Homo sapiens: one gene and its partner. The protein of the gene in region 2 interacts with the protein of the main gene of each other region in a pairwise test. Each region holds a gene or a part of one and is shown on either strand. Other genes may lie near its edges.

Region 1 (7,989 bases), on a different chromosome or scaffold from region 2:
GGTAAGCAAGGAGGTAGAAATAAATGGCGGTAAGGGAAGCTTGGCGCTTACTTGGATTTGAGTTATCTTGAGTCCTAGTTTATATTGAAGCAGAAGGGTGTGCCTGATTTCCGTAGTGCATACCATAGATACTCGGTGGCCTTGATTATACAGAAGCCTCTTTTATTATAGTGGGATCTCTGTTTTTAAGTAGAAAAGGGGCAAGAGCTAGTTTACACTAAGAACTCTTTGTTACATCAGGTAACACATTTTATTGTATTTTGTAATGGGGTTTAGGTTAGGCATAAGGGACTACCCTTCCCAGTTATGTGACTCAGTTTTAGTCTGATGAGCTTAGCTGAAGACCTTGAACTTTGGGGGAAGTTCAGTTATTCAGTAGGCTACAGTTATAGCCATCATCGCCAAAGGCAAAGTGTGTGTGTGTGGGAAAAAGGAAGTAATACCAGCGTCAGGCTTCCCTTTTAAAATGTGTACCAATAATTTATATTTTTTGCCAACAATTTCTCCTATAAAATCACAAATACTCATCATTTCTAAGAAGGAATCAAAGTAAATAATCTAAGTGGCAGTTTTTAAAGACGGGGAGGAGACTCGAGTTAGGATTTTGGTCTTTCTCTCCAAATTATCTGATTTAGATAGGCCATTTCCTTTTTACACTTACGGATTTGGGCCTGCCGGAGGCCTGACCTGAATCAGCTCCACAGCCATGGAGCTAAAAATAGGGCAGTCTTGGAGGACTTGCTAAAACAGTGTCTCAGCCTTTCCCAGTATTTATCACTATCTTGTCCCAAGTAAAAATGGGAAAGCCTTCTAGTTTGCTTTCATGTATATATTAATTTGCAGAGATATTTGTCATACTACTTTAATTCTTTCGAAGTGTTATCAACCTTGCACAATAATTTACATTTTAGACAGTTGTCATTTAACCTTGCTTTTCTTGCAGTGCTTGACTTTGTGAATTACCAGCACTCTCACACTTTATAGAAGTTGCTAAGAGTTTTGCTTCTGAGCAACAGGTTCAGATAGATTGTATGTGCCAAAATCTTTGTTAAAAGAGAAGAACCAGTAGATATGCCTACCATTGCTTTTGATTGAAAATAAGCTTTACTAACTTATGTTTGCCACCTGTTGCTAGGTAAATGGCTTTAAGACTAGCTCCACGTTGCTAATGGCAGAGGAAAGCCCTATCAGATGACACTGTGGTTTATTCATACGAGTAATACCTTGATTCATGATAGTGTCTAACATAGCTTCTGTGAAAGAAGTGTTGCTAAATGTCATTTGTTGAATTGGCAAAAAAATTCTACGGTGGTTATTTTTATATATAGATAGTCCTTTTTGGTCACATACTCTTAGAATATATAAGAATATAGTTTAATAGTGTCCAAGAACAGCAGTGAAGGTAGAATCAGTTAAACTGAAAACCAGTTATTACACTGAAAACAAACTAATTGCTAACCTCAACAGGTGCATTTTCAGTGTATCTCAGCGTAATAGGACATACTAGGCGTCCAGGCAGTTGTGCCGGTTCTGTGGGTATAAATGAGCCTTGGTTGTGATCCAAGAGAGCTGTAGAATGCACAGCTGGAGCCTCCCTTTTCCCAAATGCTCTACTCATGCTAAACGTAAAGGGAGAACCACTCAATTGGATCTGTAACTTTTTTTTTTTGAGACAGAGTCTTACTCTGTCACTCAGGCTGGAGTGCCCTGGCACGATCTCGGCTCACTGCAACCTCTGCCTCCTGGTTTCAAGCCATTCTCCTGCCTCAGCCTCCCAGGTAGCTGGGACTACAGGCACGCACCACCACACCTGGCTAATTTTTTTTTTTTTTTTGTATTTTTTAGTAGAGATGGGGTTTTCACCATGTTGACCAGGCTAGTCTCAAACTCCTGACCTCAGGGGACCCACCCTCCTCGGCCTCCCAAAGTGCTGGGATTACAGGCGTGAGCCACAGTGCCCGGCCAGGATCTGTAACTTTTAAAGATACTTTCTATTAATATAAATTCTCAAGAGGCCTTGATGGTAGTTTGAAATGTGTTACTTTAAGTGTGTCTGAGTTTTTTTTTTTTAAACCATAACCCTTTACGGTACAGGAATATCTTTATTTGAGATACCCAGTAATAGAAAAGAATTTTAATCTCCTTTAAGCATGTTAAATAATTGGGAGCTAGGGCCGGGCGTGGTGGCTCATGTCTGTAATCCCAGCACTTTGAGAGGCCCAGGCGGGCAGATCACCTGAGGTCAGGAGTTTGAGACCACCCTGCCCAACATGGTGAAACCCTGTCTCTACTAAAAATAGAAAAATGAGCCGGAAAAAAAAAAAAGAAAGAAAGAAAAATTAGCCGGACATGGCAGCTCCTGTAATCCGGCTACTCGGGAGGCTGAGGCAGGAGAATCGCTTGAACTTGTGAGGCGGAGGTTGCGGTGAGCTGAGATTGCACCACTGCACTCCAGCCTGGTGGGGGAAAAAAGAATTGGGAGCTAGCTAGAAGGAAGCATTGGATAAGAAATAGTTGTTTCAGGCTGGGCACAGTGGCTCATGCCTGTTGTAATCCCAGCACATTGGGAGGTCGAGGTGGGCGGATCACGAGGTCAGGAGTTTGAGACCAGCCTGGCCAAGATGGTGAAACCCTGTCTCTACTAAAAATACAAAAATTAGCCAAGCGCCGTGGTAGTTGGCTGTAATCCCAGCTACTCAGGAGGCTGAGGCAGGAAGATCGCTTGAACCTGGGAGGTGAAGGTTGCAGAGAGCCAAGCTTGCGCCACTGCACTCTAGCCTGGGTGACAGAGCAGGACTCCGTCTCAAAAAAAAAAAAAGAAATAGTTGTTTCAATTCACAGCTTTAGAATTTTGGTAAAAGACCACATGCCAGTAAGTTATCTTTTTGTTGAACTGGTTGTTTAATAGAAGAAAATGTAAACTGCAGAGTGAGAGGATCTGGATCATACTTTGTAGGTTGGTACTTTACAATTTAGGGCATAAAAACAAACCCCAAACCTCTTGGGATGATACCACACAACATTTTTGCACCCCCTATGCTGCCTACTTGGATGTTCTTTCTTGTCTTATAAGCTTGATCACCAAGGAAAGAATGAGTGCCTTAATTTTTCTGAAACCATAGTGGACTTAAATTTTTACACAGAGCCTCTAAGTGGATTCAGAATTAATGGGAAAAATAAATCGGCCTCTTACAGGCTGAAAGCCTCAAAATACATTCCTACAGAAGTTGCCAGTTTGTCTTTTTCAATATGTATAGGATGAAGTTGAGCGTGGCGTAGCATGGATTTTGTTAGCTCTTCTTTGTGAAGAGTAAAGTTATTGTGGAGGGAAGGCCAAGGGAAGAGAGTGTCCTAAATTTACAAAAATGTCCTAAAGGAGAAAGGCTAATAAATTCTTTACAAATTTGGCTTAAGAAGTAGTATTGTTTGTATATGTCATGTCTTCGCTGTGCTTAGTTAGAAGAAGAGGTAGGAATGAGTAAAGATATCGAAATTATAGAAAGGGAAATGGAGAAAGACTGATAATCTATTGGTTGTCAGATTATTTTGGGTGTAAAAGAAGACATTAGGTTGTAACTTTTAACTAAATGCTTAATAGTGTGTTTGTTGCCTTTTCTTTTTAGGTATTGCACTCTCAGTCTCGCCATGTTGAAGTCAGAATGGCCTGTATTCACTATCTTCGAGAGAACAGAGAGAAATTTGAAGCGGTAACTTGTAATTTCAAACATGTAATGGTGTCTTGACTTGGTTTTACATTTTGGCTTTTAGAAGTGTTCTAGTAGAATTTCACAGGCTGGATCTTAATGCGGGTTATGAAAATAACACTTATTAAAAAAACTTCTCTATTGAACTTAATCTAGTTATATTCAGTTATGTTGTTTTCTAGGCTATTTTATGTTTTGCATTTATTTGGACATTTAGAAAGCTACTATGATGGATAAGACGCTGAGCTGTGGGGGATGGAAAGATGACCTGGACAAGGCCCTTGCATACTAAGAGTGGGCTTTGTCTGACATGGTCAGGGAATTGGGGGTGTTGTGATTAATAGTGGTTTCTGTGATGGGTAACTCCCTATAAATTAAAAGAAAAAAAATTCAGTCTGGGCATGGTGGCTCACACCTGTAATCCCAGTACTTTGGGAGGTGAAGAGTTCAAGACCAGCTTGGCCAACATGGCAAAACTCTGTGTCTACTAAAAGTAGTGGCATGGTGGCACATGCCTGAGTCCCAGCTACTCTTGAGTCTGAGGCACGAGGATTGCTCGAACCCAGGAGGCAGAGGTTGCAGTGAGCCGAGTTGCGCCGCTGCACCACAGCCTGGGTGACAGAGTGAGACTCTGTCTCAAAAAAAAAAAAAAAAAAATTCAGACTTGCAGTGTAAAAAATACGCTGAGTGTAAGTAATGCTGAACCCTTAATTTTATCAGAAGGCATTCATAGGTTTTTAATTTTCAGGGTTCAGTGTGAACTCACATGTCAGAACATTATAATTATGTAAGTAGTGATTAATAGTTAATAAAATGTTGTATAACAGCTTAATATAATTTTCTCAGTAGTATGTGAAATAAGATGCCACAGTGACCTGTTTTCATTTTACATTCAAAGTCTTACAGGATTTATTACTTACTGGTTTTAAGACCTAGAATTATGTAATCTGACAACTTTGGGTGTTATTTCCCCCAGTTGACTGGTAGAGAATGTTGATATAATACTTTGCAAATGATAGGCTTGAAACCTTGTTTTATTAAAAAAACCTGGTAACGCAGAGGCTAGATAAGAGAGTGCAGAGGTGTGGTAGAGAAGGGAAGTGGGGAGGTGGAATGGTCTTTAAATTAATTCTTATTAATCATTGGCCCCAGAGGGTAAAACTGTGTTGATAATAATGGACATTGCTAACATTGGTTGAGGTGCTTACTATATGCCAGGCATTAAGTGTTTTGCATATATTTTTTTTAGTCCATATAATTTTTTTTTTTTGAGACAGAGTCTCGCTCTGTCGCCCAGGCTGGAGTGCAGTGGCGCCATCTTGGCTCACTGCAAGCTCCGCCTCCCGGGTTCATGCCATTCTCCTGCCTCAGCCTCCAGTGTAGCTGGGTCTACAGGTGCCTGGCACCATCACGCCAGGCTAATTTTTTGTATTTTTAGTAGAGATGGGGTTTCACCATGTTAGCTAGGATGGTCTCGATCTCCTGACCTCATGCTCTGCCTGCCCCGGCCTCCCAAAGTGCTGGGATTACAGGCGTGAGCCACCGTGCCTGGCCTTAGTCCATATAATTTTATGAGGTATGATCAGAGGTTGAAAGTTCCATGGGGAAAAGTTTCACTTTCCTTTTATGAACCTTCAAGCAGTTTCAGTTGTCCAGAATTGGAAAGAGATGTTGTAGAAAGTATTATGCCTTGTTACTGACATTGTTCAGCCATGGCATAGGTGGACGCTTTCTGCTCAGAAAGGAGACTCTCAGAGAGGATGCAGGCTTGTGTCAGAATTCTGCAGTCTCTAGTAACTTTAAATGGTTCTGTGTTTTTTTTTTCCTTAGACCTATAATCATCTAATACAGAACAGTAGCCCTTTATTGGTGGGCTCTTTAATATATATGGCTCTTTTATTATAAATATCTTTCGAAATTTAAGATATTTTTGGCAATTTGACATTATATAATCTATGAAAGAATCTCAATCTTAAAATCCAAGGGTGCTTAAAAGATTTTATAGACAAGGGAGTATACTTTAATGTCTTTAAGTATATCTCTGCTAAATCAACTGGGACTGTAATTTAAACGCAATTGAATTTGGTGGTTCAACAAATGACTTTTAGAGATTTCTCAAATGAGTGCGATTGCTATTAAAGAAACATAAAAAAGGTTGTGTTATTACACAGCTTGAATAAACTGTTTTTATGTCAAAGTAACAATGAAGCGATGAAGCAAGCTGTATTAGAAAAATTTTGTTGATGCTTCAAAATATTTTTCGCCTTACTAGTTCTCATCGCTCTTTCTAGTATCACTTGAGAGACAATGAGTACTCTTATCTGTATTATTAAGCTATACTATTTCTTAGCTTGTAAGTCAGTCTTTGTTTTATTCCCTTCTACACACTGGTCACTACCAAGTTAAAGCACTGCTTTCATCATATAATTTCTCAGTTCAGAATGTCACCTGAAGTGGCCTTGAATGGCCTTTCTCATCTAGCCTTCAAGTCCTGCCTGGGCTCAAGGCCCTCTGTAAACAGGCCCCCCTTTGGGTTCTTCTCCCACTCAGTTCCACAACAGGTTGTCCTGCTCCAGCTGGCCAGATTGCTTGTCTTCCCAACACAGTGTTCCTCTTCCTCCTCACGCCACATTGGCCCTCTCTGTAGAGTATCAGCTGCCTGTTGCCATCCAGATCCTGTCCAGCATTCATCTTGAGTCACTCTTCTTTCAGGAAACCTTTCCTGACAGAATTTCCTTCTTTAAATTCTTTTGTATGTTTATAGTCTTTAATGATTGCTATATGTTTTCATAATTAGATTATGTACATATTTTTAAATAATACTGAGGTATTTTAGGTTTATGTACAAACTCAGTAATTCACAGTGAATGTTTACACAGCGAAGCGGTTAACTGTTTTGGCATATATGTTAGATGACATTTCTAATAGATTTATTTTTTGCAGTTTATAGAAGGATCATTTGAAGAATATTTAAAGCGTTTGGAAAATCCACAGGTATGTCACAGTCTTCTAGTATATTTCTATTTTTATATATCCAAATAATGTATTTAAAATTCATTAAAATAGAAGATTACTATTACAGTGTATAGAGGAGTTGCAGTGACGGTGTATCCTATTTCCTTATAAACGTTTCCTACACATTTTATGCAGCACTTAAGTTGGAGCTATATGTTAGAGGTTGCCTCACTAAGGCAGAGTTGTGATATTTTATCTTGGCTATAATGGCATGTAAATGTAGTATAAAAATCTGAAATAATACTGGGGTGATGATTTTCAGAATGCTACGTTGGTGTGTGTATGGAACTTGGACAGGGTGAAGTTTGATTTCTTTTTTTTTTTTTTTGAGGTGGAATTTAACTCCATTGCCAGGCTGGAGTGCATGGCATGATCTCGGCTCACTGCAGCCTCCGCCTCCCGAGTTCAAGCGATTTGTCTCCCGAGTATCTGGGACTACAGGCGTGCACCACCATGTCCAGCTAATTTTTTTATTTTTAGTAGAGATGGGGTTTCACCATATTGGCCAGGATGGTCTCGATCTCTCGACCTCGTGATCCGCCTGCCTCAGCCTCCCAAAGTGCTGGGATTACAGGTGTGAGCCACCACACCTGGCCTGCAGAGTTTTTCTTCCTAGGCAACTGAGAAGGCAGAGTTCTTTCATGCAGGTTCCTATTTCCATGATCATCTCGTGAAGAGGGAAGAGACTGTTGAGACAGAAAAGGATAGCACTTACTCACCAACTCCTGCTGCTATACTTTTTCAGTCATGTTTATGTTAAAAGGATTTTTCTTAATTTTTCTGTTTACAAAACTAACGTTCTCACTGTAAAAATCCAAGTATCTTGGAATGCCATTTAGAATGTTAAGGTAAAAATAACATTGGCAAAGAAAAAAGCTAAGAAGAGTTAAGGAGTAAAGGGAATGTAATGTAGGAACCAAGGGTGTTTGATCGATGACTGATGTATCCATTTGGTTGCCTAACACTAATTTGAGTGCTTGTTATGGGCCAAGAATTCCTAGTCACCCTGGGGATGCAGAGATAATGTAGATAACAAAAAAGTTTCCCTATCATAGGAAAGAAGGTCAATACAAGCTAGAAAAGGAGATTTGTCACAAGAGGTATATAGCTGTGATGCTGTAGGCATTCAAAGTGTTATTTCTAGCTGGGTAGACAAAGCAACACTTGGAGAGTGAGTTGTATTTGAAGTCTGAATGGATTCTAAATAGGAAATGCCTGGGCTGAAGGGCATTCCAGGCAGTGAAAACTGTGAGCAAAGCAGATTCAGAAA
Region 2 (7,989 bases):
ATACCACTTTATTGTTATTATTTTTAAAATGTATACATCTACTAAACAAGCATGCTCCATTCTTAGAGTGTGGATACTCACTGTTAATTAATTACAGTCATTTATAATTATTCAAAGTACTTATGTTTTTTAAAGTCACCAGGAACACTTAACTAGCAAATAATGAATTGTTGCTCCTAAGGGAACTACGAGGCTAGGTTCCTTCAAGCCTCTGGTCACAACATTTTTGTCAACCCATCAATGCATAACATTGTTTATGTGTGTTTCTGTTTAAAGACACCTTATCTAATACACTTGTTGAGGCATTAACATTACACCTATAGCTAGGATCACTGTAACTCATGCCTGAGTGAAGCTTGCCTCACACATGTATTTTCTCCATAAGGCACATCCCAGCCTTCCCATGCTTAGGAACAGTAGACCACACTGTGGTACTATGCTCGGGCACCATTTTAAACAGGGATCACCAACAGCAGTCACAAAATGCAAAAAACATGGCGCTAAATAGGCTTCAAAAAGGACACGTTTTTCTTATGAGAGGTGAAACAGGAAGCGAGTGTCATTTTGTTTGGCTTCAGTTGGAAGCGTGTTAAGAGACTCGAATTCTTTGCTGCTGTGTGCTGCTGTGTGTGCACGGGTGTGTCTTCAAATGACCCCAAAGATGCCATGTATTTAGATTTTGGAGTTACAAGTAAATTTTAGTGAGTAAACAAGTTCACAAATGTGCATCTGTAAATAATGAAAATTGACTGTATTTCTCTTCCCCTACTGTGAAAGCACCTGTGTGTCATATAAACTAGAATTGAACTTTGGGATGGACATATGTTTTAGTGCCACACTTGTGACTGGTGTCTCTGTAGTAACCCTTAGATTTTGGGTGTTTTCTCTCTAGAATCTGTCCTTCTTCCTGACTCCACCATGTGCACGATGGGCTCAGCTTTCAGAAGTGCTGAGTTGGCAGTTTTCTTCTGTCACCAAAAGAGGTCTCAATGTGGACCAGCTGAACATGTTGGGAGAGAAGCTTCTTGGTATATGCATATTAACTTGTTATGTTTATAAAAATTGAAATTCATAAAAATATCTCTCTAATTGCTCTTTTCCCCTCTGCTATTTTGTTAAAGGTAAAAAAGTACTAAAATCTGTCAGCTTTTCAAGCTATAGTTTATTATAGCTAAGTGAGAATCATATGTCACCTTAGAAAGAAATATAGACCTGATAACATTTAAATGAATCCGTTCCTCATTGTCTCATATTAAGATTTCTGAGATGAATTCCCAAGGGAAAGTTTTATGAATTATGTAAAATATATTATTTGTGGCTGAAATAAGTTCCTGGATGAGAAAGATGAAGGCCTATTAACCATTAACCTTGGGGAGAAAAAAGGAAGTCCCTGACATGATGAGAAATAAAGTCCTGGGGCTTGCCCACTGCAGCATAAACCCAGGGCCCTTGCCTCAGGTGGGGCCCAGGTAGCAGAGGATGCCGTCCCCACAAGAGGATGCCTCTTTTGATCTGCAGTTTTGCCTGATTGGACAGAGTCTAGACAGTGGTAGATAATTCCCTTTCAGTGGTTAATGTCAGTGCATTTATTAGTCCTTCATACTAAACAAATCAAAGATCCACTAGTCTCAAGGTCAGATCTTTCAGTGAGTGAGGCTATCTGAACTATTTCTTTAAAAATCCGTGGACAACTTGTATCCAGATTTGCTTTCTGTAGAGCAGCACTGCATTTACTCCAAACAGCAGTAGGCTCTTCCTAACTCAGTGACTTTCAACAGTGCCTTCTTCTCTTGGATATGCAGCTGTCACAGTGGTGGTCTTGTGCTGTTTAATACAAGTACAAAATCCCCTTATTCCATTTCTTTATTTGGTGAGAGTTAAGAAGGATATCTTTTCTAGCTGTAATGGCTCATTTGTAGTTCTCTTTGAAGACCGATAATGGGCTTACCGCCTCTTCTCGCCCAGGCTGCTTTAATTTGTGTAGCTAATAACCCCGGGCTTCTTCCTCTCGTTTCTCTCACTTGGTTTTTGATTTGCATCAGACTGCCTGAGCCCATGTCCTATTTGGAGGAAAGCTGAGGGAAATGCATAAATAATGTCTAAAATAAACTTGTAAAGTCAAGTATCAGTTACATTGAAGATCTAGGGGTGATCTTGGGCACCTAGGTTGAACTTTGAAAAAAATTCTGTAGGATCCTTGGGAGAGGGGGCTCTGCTGAGCAGCAGAGGAAGGCAGTGGGAAGAGGCACTGGATAGGGAGGCTTCTCTAGGAGGCCCAGCAGAACACCTTTGATTTAGTGCAAAAGGCAAAGTCAGCTGATGGTCTTGGAAGGAAGTGTAACATGAAGAGGCATTAAAAGGACTGTCCTCTCTTTAGAGGAGGGAGGGAAAAGGGGGGCTGGGGAGGGAGAGAGCAGATGGTAAGGCTTTGTGATGTTTCCGCTTTCCCTAAAAACTCTCATATCGTGGTGCCCAGGAATCTGCCATCCATTCCTTTCTGCCATTAAACTCAAACCAACATATACATATTTTAGACCATTTAAATTCCGCCCTCTTACAGCACGTATTATAATTGCTCAGTTAATTTGGCATTAAGGTATCCGAAAATGTCAACTGTGTACATACAATCTTTGTTGGGTGTTTGGCTCTTTTCCTTGAGAGCAAATACAAGAGCCATCCGTCCAACCAAAGCTTTAGAATCAGTTTCTGTTTGCTGAAAAATCTGGTTTTTATTTGTTTAGGTCCTAACGCCAGCCCCGATGGTCTCATTCCGTGGACGAGGTTTTGTAAGGTGAGGACTGTCTGGGTTTTATGCTCTCTAAGTCCTTTTTGCTCTTGGTTGAGGTTCTCATGTTTCTTGCTGTGATAGTTACTTAACTGTTTGCTTATTTTGGCGTGTTCTTCTCTGGCCAAGGAGCCCCTCGGGCAAGTTGTTTACTTTTCTTCAGTGCAGGAGGTTGGTCTCCGAGCAGGAGTCTGACAGGAAGCACCTGCCTGAGTGATAACATTCTTTCATATCTGAAATGAGGCTTCTGTTCACTCACGCTGGACCCCTGCCCAGCAGTGTTTTAGCCATTTCTGTGTGAAATGTATGTTGTGGGCTGGGTGGCGCAGCCTGACCAGCCAGACGAGTTTAACGGCCTGCTCGAGCAGAGGGGCCCACTGCGGGGAACATTTAGATTCTGCTGGAGTCACCAGACAGTGCGGACCAGCTTGCACTGCTGGATTTTGCTAGTGTGGGGCAGCTTGTGTTTCCGTGAGTCACGCTGGAGGTCACCCCCAGGCTAGCTTGCTACTGTTTGGAAAGGGAAGCAGAGCCCGGCCCAGGGAAGTGGAGAGCTCTGGAGAGCTCCTGGTCTGAATGCTGATAAGAGCGGGGAGGGAACTTGATATTCCCTGCCAGGGGAGGGATCCCATTGCTGTGCTGAATGGGACAGTTCCATCCTTGGCACCTGGGGAGTCTTTGCAAATGATGGTGGGAGGGGCCATGGTAAGTCATTGTTTTAGATTTTTGTTCATAATGTCTGCATTTGTATACTTTCAGGAAAATATAAATGATAAAAATTTTCCCTTCTGGCTTTGGATTGAAAGCATCCTAGAACTCATTAAAAAACACCTGCTCCCTCTCTGGAATGATGGGTAAGGGCCACCGATAGATGTATTTTGAAACATATTTTTAGTGCTGCGAGGTTGAGACAAGGCCTGAGTCCAGCTTCAGTATTTGACTAGGCGTGTGTGAATCTCACAGGAGTGCGCATTTATAGGCTGCCCCTTCAGGGCTTCAGAAGAGTAGAACCTCATAACATTAACCTTACACTTTCTTAGTACAAGTATATGTATTGGCAAAGCTAAATTAAAAAAAAAAAACAACTCTTGAGTGCCATTCATGCATTCATTCACTCAACAAAAATTTTTTGAGCACCTACTATGTGGCCCCTAGGAAGGAAGAAAAACCCTTTTAACTGGGTAAATCATTTCTATCTTGACTTATTGCCAGGATCGGCTGATATTTCAACAGAAGCTTTAACTTGATCAGAAGGGCTAAAATATGAAAATATATTGCCTAGGTCTTCCTCTCCAGTAAAAAAGATGTATACATTCAGACATTGTTATGGCCTTTAAAATAATAAAGGAACAATAAAAGGCTCATTAATCCCACACGTGTTATTGAGCATCTGTAGCATCCTACTGACACCATGTTCATATCGCTTTTTTTAAAACCTTAGTATATACATGTATAAGTGAAATGCTTCCTTAAGTGTCAACTGAACAGATTTTAAAATAGTCTACGTTTTTTACCGTAGGTTTTTTTTCTCACATTCCAGCCATTTTCTTGGTTTGTAAGTTAGCATGAAAATGGAAATCATGATTGAACTAAAAGCCCATCCGTCCATCTCTTCGATATCCAGGTGCATCATGGGCTTCATCAGCAAGGAGCGAGAGCGTGCCCTGTTGAAGGACCAGCAGCCGGGGACCTTCCTGCTGCGGTTCAGTGAGAGCTCCCGGGAAGGGGCCATCACATTCACATGGGTGGAGCGGTCCCAGAACGGAGGCGGTGAGTGGGAGTTTGAGCACATAGTCCCACCATTCCATGTGTGTGAAGTCCCTCTTCATCGCCGCCAGTCAGCTCATACAGATAGTGCGTTTGGGACATGAAATTGCAGATCTTATACTTACCCCAAATGAGCCCCCGATAGGATTTAATAAACCACCACAAATGTTTGTGGTTGTGGTTCACTCTCTGGAACATATTGTGGAAATGATGGTTTTGAAAAGACAATGCCAATTCTTTCCTTTGCATCAGGTTTGTTATCTGCAGATCAAGGATGTGAGTCAATGTAATCTGCAACCCGTTCTTGGAAGGAATCACATTTCCCACAGGAGTAAGCATCCACATTCTCTTAGGGTCATCCCAGAGTAGAGTGTGCAGATGAGACAGGCTTCGGGAGAAGACTTCATACACATCATCAGCCAGGGAGTTGATGCAGGACCTGTTGGGACGAGTGGCAGCCTCTACCCTGCCTTCAAACAGAGCAGCTGCAAATTTATCTTTATCATATATGGGGTTTCTATTTAATCAAATGAGTCCATGGCTAAAAGACTCCAGAAACCTTGGTGTTATGAAGCAGGTTTCTGAGGGTGAAGCTCAACAGCGTAAATGAAAAAATCATAAAGACCAACTGATTACTTTTCACTGTTGTTTAGAGTTTGGTCTGTTTGAAGGGCAGGAGGAAAAACTGATTTGTTTTAGTAATTTTTATACTTTCAGTGGGTAGACACAAAATGGAATACTCTTCTTGTTCTATTTATTTTTCTGAAATATTCCTCTTCTCCTGTTTTTCTGGAATACTCTTATTCTATTTGTTTTTCTGCCATACTCTTCTTGTTCTGTTTGTTTTTCTGGAATACTCTTCTATTTTTTTTTTCTGGAACGGTATTCTTTCTTGTTCTGTTTATTTTTCAGGAATACTCTTCTTGTTCTATTTGTTTTTCTGGAATACTTTTCTTGTTCTATTTTTCTTCTGAGGAAAAAGCAGGGAGGCTGAGATGAGAGTCTGGCGTGGGCAGTAGTCATTAGAACCTGCCCTTTTCCTCTTATCCTGTTCCCTTCCTGAACCAGCTGAGAGACAGATATAGTAGACCAAGCAGAGATGAAGAAAACCCTTGGCAACCAGGAAAGGTCAAGCAGGACACTACCAGCCAGGAAGGGTTAGGATGGCAGCATAGTCTCATGTTCCACAGCAGGCTCCCCAGAACACCTGAACCGTGGCCTCTGGAAGGTCGACACCCAAAGGGAGATTCTGTATCAGCTAGGAAGAAGGATCTGAATTCAGTCTGGGAATAAGAACGGGAGTAAATTAAACCATGGTTTATTACGTTAAGGGTTACAGGGAAATGTAGCAAATAGGATCATTTTTAATTTGAAATGTTGTTTTCTATATATCATAATTTATTTTAATAAAAAATTAGATTTTTCAATATGAAAAGAAAAACAAAGTGAGTTTATCTCTAGTAATTTAAATCTGTGGCTTAAGCCAAGATGATCCACTTAGTAGTAAGTTATTTATGTGCCTATGGGCAGCACATCATTGAAGATGCAGGCTTTTAAAGGTTTTTAATAAATCTTTTTTGCCCAGATTTATAAATCTAAGCAAATAATGGCAAATAGAATGTTATTGAGAATAATACCTCCCTTTATTTTCCCTGAGACAGTATTATAATTTATTTAGAAATAAAGCAGTCTACTGTATATGTTATAATGCTTAGATTGTGATTAGTTCTTATGAGGTTCACTCAAATCCATCAACTCTGCAGTGTTTTATTTCTCTGTCCTCTTTCATTTTGGGATGTTCTATGGGATTTACTTAGCTTTTCTCCTTTTTAGAACCTGACTTCCATGCGGTTGAACCCTACACGAAGAAAGAACTTTCTGCTGTTACTTTCCCTGACATCATTCGCAATTACAAAGTCATGGCTGCTGAGAATATTCCTGAGAATCCCCTGAAGTATCTGTATCCAAATATTGACAAAGACCATGCCTTTGGAAAGTATTACTCCAGGCCAAAGGAAGGTAAGTGGGGCAAGCAGGTGGTAACAGCGTGGCACAGTCTTTCCTGATGAGGGGGTGATTATTCTGAAACTCCACCCATGCAGTGTTTTGCTTTCGAATTGGTAAGAGTAGGCTTTCAAAAGATGGCATAAACTCAGTGCAGGTGAAACATAATGCATTATTTGGCCTGATACAGCTAGTAAGAAATGAATGGACAATTTCCTATTTTAGGAATGTTGGAAAAGTCCATTGCTGGTCTTGTGTATTTGTTACTATCACTGTTTCCACATGAAAAGGGTTTAAATAAGGAACTGTGGTAAACCAACAGAAGGCATCTTGCTCACGTTAAAGTTGAGGAAACTGAGGCCTGGGAGAAGTGAAGTGGTTCATTTAGGGTGGCCCAATTACTTACTAGATCCTATTTTTATTAGATAATTATTAAGAGGAGGCCTCATCTGAGAACACAGGTCTCTTGCTTCTCAGTTGTCAATGAATTGCATTTGAGAAGGTTCGAATTAGACCTGTTTTGTTTGGAACACACCAACAAAGCTGTTTTTCAGAATCAGAAATCTCAATATTAGGACAATTACTTTGGAATGAAGATGTCCCCAGCTTACCTTGACAGCTGTGAATATTCATTAGCCAGGCTAATGCCAATAAACTGGATAGAACTTTGCATATTTTGGGCTCAGACTTCTTGTAAGATTTCAAGTTGTGTAAAGAGAAAGCTCCTAGCTAGTGTCCTGCTGAACACTAGCTTATTTCCAGACTGAATTCAGATCCTTCTTCTCGTTGTTTCTGCATTCCCACTAGAATTTTAGGTGACTCAGGCAGGGAGGTTATAGCTCCTTAAAGTTTTAGGAGGCTAAGCTGTCTAGAAACACAGTAGAACTTTAATCCCCCCGAAAAGTTGATGTTGTATTCTGATGGAATTTCGGTTGATGGAAAGCGTACACAATGTGTTTATTTCTAGCACCAGAGCCAATGGAACTTGATGGCCCTAAAGGAACTGGATATATCAAGACTGAGTTGATTTCTGTGTCTGAAGTGTAAGTGAACACAGAAGAGTGACATGTTTACAAACCTCAAGCCAGCCTTGCTCCTGGCTGGGGCCTGTTGAAGATGCTTGTATTTTACTTTTCCATTGTAATTGCTATCGCCATCACAGCTGAACTTGTTGAGATCCCCGTGTTACTGCCTATCAGCATTTTACTACTTTAAAAAAAAAAAAAAAGCCAAAAACCAAATTTGTATTTAAGGTATATAAATTTTCCCAAAACTGATACCCTTTGAAAAAGTATAAATAAAATGAGCAAAAGTTGATCAGAGTGGGAAAGTAGTTCTTTTCAATCTAGAAAAGGCCAAAGTAATGATTGAGATACACTGTCTCCACTTGCTTTGATTTTGTTGTTTCATTTTATAAAAGGTAGAAAAAATTT

Evidence for each region. Proteins that work in one complex are often made in the same cells at the same time.
Region 1: the proteins of STAT1 (region 2) and OTUD4 interact in binary tests that used the Homo sapiens proteins (3 or more experiments, as listed by UniProt).

What each region holds. Positions count from the first base shown.
Region 1 is NC_000004.12:145,170,379-145,178,367, reverse strand, and holds part of OTUD4 (OTU domain-containing protein 4), read left to right. Parts: intron 1-209; exon of another isoform or gene 210-240; intron 241-3,623; coding exon 3,624-3,707; coding exon of another isoform or gene 3,708-3,728; intron 3,729-6,647; coding exon 6,648-6,698; intron 6,699-7,989.
Region 2 is NC_000002.12:190,975,422-190,983,410, reverse strand, and holds part of STAT1 (signal transducer and activator of transcription 1-alpha/beta), read left to right. Parts: intron 1-892; coding exon 893-1,028; intron 1,029-2,741; coding exon 2,742-2,791; intron 2,792-3,544; coding exon 3,545-3,639; intron 3,640-4,409; coding exon 4,410-4,555; intron 4,556-6,385; coding exon 6,386-6,571; intron 6,572-7,499; coding exon of another isoform or gene 7,500-7,523; coding exon 7,524-7,599; coding exon of another isoform or gene 7,600-7,603; exon of another isoform or gene 7,604-7,873; intron 7,874-7,989. UniProt on the Homo sapiens protein: Signal transducer and transcription activator that mediates cellular responses to interferons (IFNs), cytokine KITLG/SCF and other cytokines and other growth factors.